2 linked regions of the Homo sapiens genome follow. The protein of the gene in region 1 purifies or fractionates together with the protein of each later gene. This does not show direct contact. Each region holds a gene or a part of one and is shown on either strand. Other genes may lie near its edges.

Region 1 (5,404 bases):
ATAGGCTGGTCTTGAACTCCTGACCTCAGGTGATCCACCTGCCTTAGCCTCCCAGAGTGCTGGGATTACAGGCATGAGCCACCATGCCAGGCCTATAAATGGAATTTAACAACAATGGAGAAACGTTGAAATGTTTGGAGTATTTATCTTTAATATACATAGTATTAAAAGTCAAAAGTTTCCTGTTTTACTTGACTATAAAAAAGCTATGACAATAATTCATATTCCATCCTTCATGAGATACTTAAATTAGTTTCTTTAAAGCTGGAAATTGGCAAGGTTAGGGAAGAAAGCCTTATTATGCCTTACAGAGAGTCTTGCCCTGTGGAAAAAAGATGTAATACTTCCCCGGTGTACTACCATTACAGAGTCCTATTATCTACAGCAGGGGTGTCCAATCTTTTGGCTTACCTGAGCCACACTGGAAGAAGGACTGTCTTGGGCCACACATAAAATACACTAATGATATTTTAACGATATGTTTTAACAATAGCTGATGAGCTTAAAAAAATCACAAAAAAATCTCATAATTTTTTAAGAAAGTTTATGAATTTGTGTTGGGCCACATTCAAAGCCATCCTGGGCTGCATGTGTGGCCTGCAACCTGTGGGTTGGACAAACTTGATCTACAAGGAACCCTAAATCCTTCAGAGAAATAATTATCATGAAAACCCAACTCCGTTCTCTTAGCACGGAAACACTCAAATTTGGACAAGCCTGTAGAAAACAATGTATCAAGTCCTCAAATACTGCAAGAAAACAGTTTAAACAAAAAATCTGTAATCACTTATGACCCAAATTTACTTAAGACTTAAACCTCCTCATACTGGAATGAGTTTGGGATTCCTCTTTAGATCCTACTAATACGGCAAAAGATAGGAAAAGGAACTGAGCACAAAGTTTCTCTTTTTCTCCCTTGTTATATCCACAGAATACTGAATAAATGTTCAATAACTAACGTTATTTTAGACTCCTGCTGTCACCAAAAGGAGGATGGAAAATCACTAACTAAATGCTTACGTTAGTTTTATTTCATCTGATGGTCGAAGTAGTTCACTGGATATTCCTGGTTTACTTAGTGCTGAAAACACTTGTCCTCGTTCAATCCAAGTATCATCATCAGACTTTTCTAGTCCCTTACACATTACATAATTCAAAATATGTGTCAGTAATTGAAGAAGCTCCTCCTCACATCTCTATGGAAAATATAAAGTAATTTTAAATAACTAGAGGGTGTAGTTGTTCAAAGCACATCATAAGAACCATTACATATACTCATTGTAATCATTTAACATATTTTTAAAGTCCTTAATGAACCTGGAACTTTACTAGGCCCTAGAGACATAAGATGAGTAAGACATTAGCTTTGCTCTCAAAAAACTCACAATCTAGTGACTTCCAGGTTTCTAAACCTTAGATCATGAAACTTAGAACATGAATACAATATGAAATTGTTAACAACTGCTCACATATTTCTAAGGATTAGAAGTATATATCAGACATGAAAATAAAAACAACATTTGGAAAAATAAGCAATTTTACCTCTTGGCTTTCAAGTAAAGAGAAGTCATCACTAAAGCCCATATCATTTGTGATGCTGCTTTCTCTGTCAGAGTGCACAGAAAACGATTTAGTAGACTCTACTGGGGATGGTGTGCTAGGCAGACTGTCTGGCACTTGACTTCCACTATCACTCATTTCACATGAGTCAATTCCACTGAGGTCTAAACTCAAATGTGAAGGGTTACTATGCCAGAATTCCTCTTGATTCTCTGATTTGAAAGACAATTCTCCCACAGAGCTATCTTCTGGAAATAATGGTGTGTTTGAGTCTAAAGAGTGTCTATCCTCCAAACTCCACTGATCCGAAGACACATTAGCTGAGGCAAAAGAGGTGATTTTTTCCTCATCTGTTTTTTCATCAGAGTTCTTCTTGGTATCTTCAGTTGACATATTTTTATCATTGTCTTTCATTAAAACAGCTCTACTGTGCTTATGAAGAGTATTTCCGTTTTCAAATTTTGCTTTTAAAAAAAGCCTAACTAAGGTGTCTTGCCAACCCACTTGCTGTGATATTTGATGTGCTGCATCTGGCTGGAACTGCAAAATTTGCAAAACCTGTAAAAAGATTTAGAATACAAAATTCTTCAAAAAGTACATAGTACTTTATATCAAAAATAATATTTTCAGTTATTTTAATGATAAGGTAATTTAATGAGAAACTATAGAAGAATATACTTTCAAAAGATTATATTCTTAATTAGATTATAAACTATTTGGAAGACTGGCACTGTGTTTCCAACTAATCTCCATATTACTCATTGTACAGAGTAAGAGTACACTAAAATATCTGCTGGAAGATAAAAAAGAAAAATTAAAATGAATAGGATGATGGTATATGTTAAATAATAGAGTAATATCCTCTCAACTAAATACTTTCCATGAGCCCCCTACATTTGTTCAGGAAATATTATTGCACACCTACTATGTGCTAGGCACAGTTTTAGGCACTAGCATTAGGGGAGTGAATAGGACACATAAGACATTTTGATAGAAACTGAGTATACCAAGGATGTTTTTCTGTCTCGTTTTTTTCAGGGAAAGTTAAGTTTTTTTTTTTTTTTTGAGACAGGGTCTTGCTCTGTCGCACCAGTGCAGTGGTGCGATCTTGACTCACTACAACCTCCGGCTCCTAGGTTCATGCAACTCTCCTGCCTCAGCCTCCCGAGTAGCTGGGACTACAGGCACACAGCACCACTCCTGGCTAATTTTTGTATTTTTAGTACAGACAGGGTTTCACCATGTTGGCCAGGCTGGTCTCGAACTCCTGACCTCCTGTGATCTGCCTGCCTCGGCTTCCCAAAGTGCTGGGATTACAGGCATGAGCCATGGTTGCTTTTGCAAAAACTTTTTTGTTCAGTATGTCTACACTAAAGTCTACATTGCTTAGTAAGTCTATATTATACAAACAGAACAAAAACTAAACTTTAATTCCAGAAAATGAATTTCAGCAAGATGGATGCCACTGCTTAGCTAGAATAGTAAACAGTGACATGAGAATACGTATGATCTCTACTATCCAATTGATTAAAATTTTTAGATAAAAACAAGTTCTTAAAAAGCTTTAGACATTCAGTTAAGATCTTTTAAGACAATTTTATCACAAAGTCAATAAACTTCTATGTAGATGAAAAGAACTCTAGCTTCCAGGGTTTTGAGTATCTCTCTTAACAGAAGTTTTAGCTCTGACAATTTTCAGAGCAAGAGATGAACAATGTTGGTAAGGACTTCAATATTACTAGTACTAATACATGTTGATACAGAAGGCAAGGAGTCACAATGACGTGAAGATTCTTTCTTTATTAATACAATATCAATCAGTGAGCAACTGTTACTTTATAGGTGCAGAATAACAATTTTTTTCTTCCAGATTAAGCTTTACTTGGCAAAGAAACTTTTCATGCTGACTTTAAAGTTTCCATAAAATATGACTTATTTTATATCTATTTTATACATAAATAATAGATAAAACCAAGCTGCACTGAGAGCTGTTTCTAATTATACGTGAAAAGGAAAGGATCAATTTATATGACCTGCTCCAAATACTCAGAGCTAAGTACATAGGGAAATAATCACTGTCACACACACTGTTTGTATAAATGTAAACTGGTACAGTTATTTTGAAGGACAATGTGGAAAAATCCATCAAAATGTAAAACGTTAATACCCTTTGAAACAGCAATTCTATTTCATGGAGTATGTCCTACAGATGTATTACCACAAATTGGAAAACATAAAAAGACATTCATAACAGCAGTTTATAACATGGAAAAGCAGGAAACAACCTAAATGTCTATCAATAAGGAACCAGATAATACTTTATTAAATAGCCATACAATGAAACACTATGCATTTCCATTAAAGAGAAAAGGAAATTATACATATATATTATACAACAAATATATATATTTTTCTTTTCTGTCAGTTAAACAAATAAATTATATATGTGTGTGTATATATGTGTATATATATATAAACTCTATATATAGAGATCTCTTATTCTCACACACACATATATATATATATATATCAAGAACTGTGACAAAATCATGAGGTAAAATAAAAAAAAGAAAAGCAAGGAAGCAAATTAAATAGGTCAATGGTTACTAGTGGAGGACAGAGAAAGTTATGATCTGAAAGGGGAAGACAGGATAACTATCTCTTGACTTAGTTAAAGGTTAACTGTGTACTAAAGACAAATCATTGTTGGAATACTCCTAAACAAATTATAGAAAATTATTTCCAGAAAGTTTCAAAAGATTCAGAAACTCTATAATATGGTATATTAATTAGAAATGGTCACAATCATTGAAGGTTCTTAATAAGAAAATTATTCTCTGGTAATACATTTTTGACTCTGGAAAGAACATATTTGCAGGAGACCACGAAGAACTAAGAAAACATTCACATGCTAATTTCTTATGATAACATGAAGTTAATTTACTTCAAAAAGAAAATTGTTTACTTATAAAATTACGTCATTTATAAAATAAATGAAAACTTGTATCTGCTGCAAAATAATGCAAAGTTATTTATAGCATGATGGTGATGCTGCTATCATTAAAATATATCTTAAGAGTTTACTGACCTTTCTGCAGATGGCCACTCTAACATTTATATGTGCTCTGTGAGATATATATACCACAGATAGTAGATCTTTGAAATTAATAACAGGATCTATGGTAGGAAAAACAAAAAGTTAAAATTAAATACCAGAGATAACCAAAGAAAGAACTGTGGATAATACTTGTATAAAATGCTGAAATAATTATTTCATTTTAAAATATGAATTATAGGTATGTTCAAATTTTAAAGAAAAAATAGGTTTAGAATGTTTGACATCCTCCTGAGTCAACCCTAAATAATTGTTCCTTTTGATTGCTTGAACGTACTGTCCATACTGCATGGCTCTTATATTATTATTTATCTTTTTATATACATGTCTTATCAACAAGATTGTAAACTAATCAAGACAAAGAATCTTATATCCCCAAACTCCCAGCATCTGGCATAAATTCTACTGTCTGTCATTAAGTACTGAAAAAAATTATTTAAAAAAATTAGAAGCAGGGCATGGTGAAACATGCCTGTAGTTCCAGCTACTTGGAAGGCTGAGGTAGGAGGATCCCTTGCATCCAGTATGAGGCTACAGTGAGCTATGATCACACCTGTCACTAGCCACTGCACACCAACCTGGTCAATACAGCAAGACTCTGTTTCTAAAAAGAAAAACCAAAAAACCAGAACAAAACAAACAAAAGAAACAACAAAGAATATCTGAAATTAGTTTTCATTTGCCTTTAAAAATTTAAGCTCCTTAAGAAAAAACAATCTTTTGCACATA
Region 2 (3,500 bases), on another chromosome or scaffold:
TTTTCCTTTAATCTGTTATTGACTTTCAATAAACTAGACATAATTTAAAGTACACAATTGGATAAGCTTGACACATGCATGCAACCAAGGACTCCAATCACTGCAGTCCAGATCGTGGCTATAACCATCAGCCCCAAACTTTCCCCATGCCCCTTAGTTATCCGTTGCCCTCTGCCATCCCCAGGCAACTACTGATGCGCTATCAGTATGGATTCATGTGTGTTTTTGGGAATTTTATATGAAAGGAATCATATGGCATTGTTTTTTCCTGGCTTTGTCCATGTTCCACTCAATAGTTTATCCAGGCTGTTTTCTGAGCAATCCTCTGTCCTGGGCCTCTCCGTGGTTTTCATAGACAGGAATCCCTCTCTCCTTAGCTTTGGCCTTTCCATCTGGAGCAGTTGCCCCTGGACCCAGCTAAGCCCACACCCATCATCTGTTCCGTGGGGAGGAGTGGGGTGACTCCCAGGTTTCTGGCTGGGGCTGCTGGGGGGGTGTGACATGTTCACTGGAGGAGGGGGTGCAGGGAGAAGAGGGCAAGTAGTCCTGCAAGCCCACCCCCTGCCCATCTTTCACAGCTTACCTCCTGACCCAGAGGCTGCCACAGCTGCAGGGGCCCTAAGGAACCAGTTGATAGGCTTGGGGCTCCTGGTTCTCCATAGAGCTGGCCTCATTCCCCTGGAGCAGTACCCTGGGGCTGTCAGCTAGAGGCAACATACTATACTCTGGGCCACTCACCCATGCACGCTGCGGACAAACTTCTCCAGCTGCCTCATGCAGGACCTGGCTTCAAAGTGTTTCACACGCGGCTCCCCATATGCTCCAATGTCGATGTAGAGCTCTGCCTCATTTCCTTTGGGGTGCACTAGGCCTGGCTGGCTGGGCAGGATGAACGGACACAGCCAGATGGGGTAGACCTGGGTAGACCAGGGAGGTGGGTATTGGTGCTTTTTCTCCAACAGGTGACAGGCTCATGGCTGGCCCGCTCATACCCACCCAAATGAAGGCTTTGCAGCATTCTCAAGACCCCCTCAGGTGCTCTCAGCTTCACTGCCCCGCCCCCCAGCCCTGGCTGAGAACACCCTGACTCCACCACCTTGGAGGACACAATCGGAGCAGGTCATGGGAGTGCTCGATGCCAGACCCTATGACTCCTCTCCCAGGGGGGCCATCACTGAGTGGGTTGAGGCCTCAGCAGACATAGGGACAAGGACCTCATCTTAAAGTTGGGAAAACACCCAGAGGGCAGTGTGCCCAAGGTCGGTCACACGGTTCAGGGGAGGAGACCATGGATTCCAAGGGAATGCACCTGGTGCGCCCTCCCTGCCCTGCCCCACTCACGTGGATGTCGTTTTGGAAGGTGTGCAGGGCCTGCTGCAGGCACTTCATGGGCACCAGCATGTCCTGCACCACGTGGTGCTGCTCGTACAGCTTGCGCAGGGTCTCACCCTGGGTCAGCTTCAGGAGGGAGATCTTGGGAGGCACCATCCAGCCAAAGAGGTAGCGGAAGATGGGGTTGTTGCCAAAGGGGATAATGTCCTGGAAAACAAAGATTAGGGTTGGAGAGAAAAAAACCAACAAGGGTTGAATGTCTCCAAGTGCAAGGGGCCAGGGGCCAGGTCCCATTCTGTGCTTGACAGAAGCACGCCTGAGTCCAATTCCCCTCTTTGGAGGGGGTGTGATGGGACCTAGGACTTTACCAGTCCAATCTAGGTTTGCTTCTCAGCTCTGGCATTCGCCAGTAGTGATGACCCCGGGCTAGTTACTTAACTTCTTTGAGCTCAGTTTCCTTATCTGTAAAATGGGCCTTGTGAGGATAATGAGATATTAATACCAAGTGGAAGGCACTCAACCCCATGCCTGGAGTGCAATAATGAGCTAGCTATCATTCCTGATCTAGCTGTTGAGATCTGGCTGGAATAGAGCTGGCATTCCATAAATGTTTGAGAAACGAATGCTGTTGAATGAGCATAGTGATTCTTAGAGAATTTAAGCAGTCTCCCTAGGGGCACACAGCCAGAGACAGCGCTCATGGGGTGGGTGCAGTCTGGCTCAGGTTCGACAAGGAGCCCACTGGTTTGCAGCATCCCTTGCTCACAGCCTGACCACCCGCCTGGCTCCCCCAATTCGGTCTCCCTGGAAACCCTCCTGCGCAGAAGCTGTTCTCTTCCACGCCTCAGACTGCCACGAGGCGGGAGCTTCCTCACTCAGCACTGCTGCCTCCTGACGATGGCCCCCTCTTCCCTCCAGCTCTGCCCACCTCCAACAGAGAAGACTTTGGCCCCTGGGTCACAATCCTCCTCCCTGCTTGAGTCCTACCATGTTCCTGAGGGTCCCCAGTGTCCACTGATGCCCGATTCTCACAGCTCTGGGAGCCCTTGAAGCCAAGGCTGCTCCTCCATTCATTAAACAGTTCTGGCCAGGCACGGTGGCTCATGCCTGTAATCCCAGCACTTTGGGAGGCCGAGGCAGATGGATCATGAGGTCAGGAGATCGAGACTATCCTGGCTAACACGGTGAAACCCCGTTTCTACTAAAAATACAAAAAATTAGCCGGGCATGGTGGCGGGCGCCTGTAGTCCCAGCTACTCAGGAGGCTGAGGCAGGAGAATGGCGTGAACCCAGGAGGCGGAGCTTGCAGTGAGCCGAGATTGTGCCACTGCACTCCAGTGTGGGCGACAGAGTGAGACTCCGTCTCCAAAAAAAAAAAAAAAACAGTTCCAAGGGGCCTCCGAGGTCAGGAACCAGGTTCTATGCTGGGTGCTGGGGAACCAAGATAACTGAGACATGGTCTCTGTCCTTAAGACACCCACAACCGCAGGTGTGGAAGACACAGGCCACTGGATGAGTGTGGGAAGAGTGGGGACAAACAGAGGCTGGGGCAGCTCATGAAAGGGTCCACATCAGACTAGGGGGCACGGTGACTCCCCAAAGCAGCCATGTGTGTAAGCACTGAAGGCTGAGTGACCCTTTCCCTCACTCCTCTGGAGCTGCCGGACCACTCCCATGAAGTCAGGGACCTGCCTGTTTTCTTCTGTTAGATCCTGCGCCTTTGCCAATGTCTGGCATGCAACAGGATCTCAATAAATAGCCTGGCTTTTATTGTTTCCTTGGTTACCTTTGGAAGACCTACACATGCCCACAGCAGAAATCCCCATAGTACAAAAGTTAAGCCTCCCTGCGCATTCCTGACCCTGTTTCCCTCCCAGCAATGACCTGACCTGGCTCCCCACCCACCCTCAACTCTCCTCCCCCTCCCTAATGGCAAGCATTGGTAAGAATGATTTGCCTACCCTTTGGGGGACATCTGATACGGAGAAGCAGAGGAGCTTTGAAAAAACAGAAAGCAAAAAAACCTCATAAATGGTGGCATCTTAGCACCACTGGCTCATCACTGTATCCTGTATCAATACAGAGGGCACTACTGCCTTCGGTTGTGGGTGTCTAATGTGTGCTGCAGGGGTCCACAAATTCGGCCCACCCTCTGGTTGTGTGTTCCT

Evidence for each region. Proteins that work in one complex are often made in the same cells at the same time.
Region 2: the proteins of NBEAL1 (region 1) and DHCR24 purify together in Homo sapiens (co-immunoprecipitation; one large-scale study listed by IntAct). This does not show direct contact.

What each region holds. Positions count from the first base shown.
Region 1 is NC_000002.12:203,132,391-203,137,794, reverse strand, and holds part of NBEAL1 (neurobeachin-like protein 1), read right to left. Parts: intron 4,738-5,404; coding exon 4,649-4,737; intron 2,119-4,648; coding exon 1,543-2,118; intron 1,197-1,542; coding exon 1,021-1,196; intron 1-1,020.
Region 2 is NC_000001.11:54,852,696-54,856,195, forward strand, and holds part of DHCR24 (delta(24)-sterol reductase precursor), read right to left. Parts: intron 1,540-3,500; coding exon 1,342-1,539; intron 918-1,341; coding exon 739-917; intron 1-738. UniProt on the Homo sapiens protein: Catalyzes the reduction of the delta-24 double bond of sterol intermediates during cholesterol biosynthesis.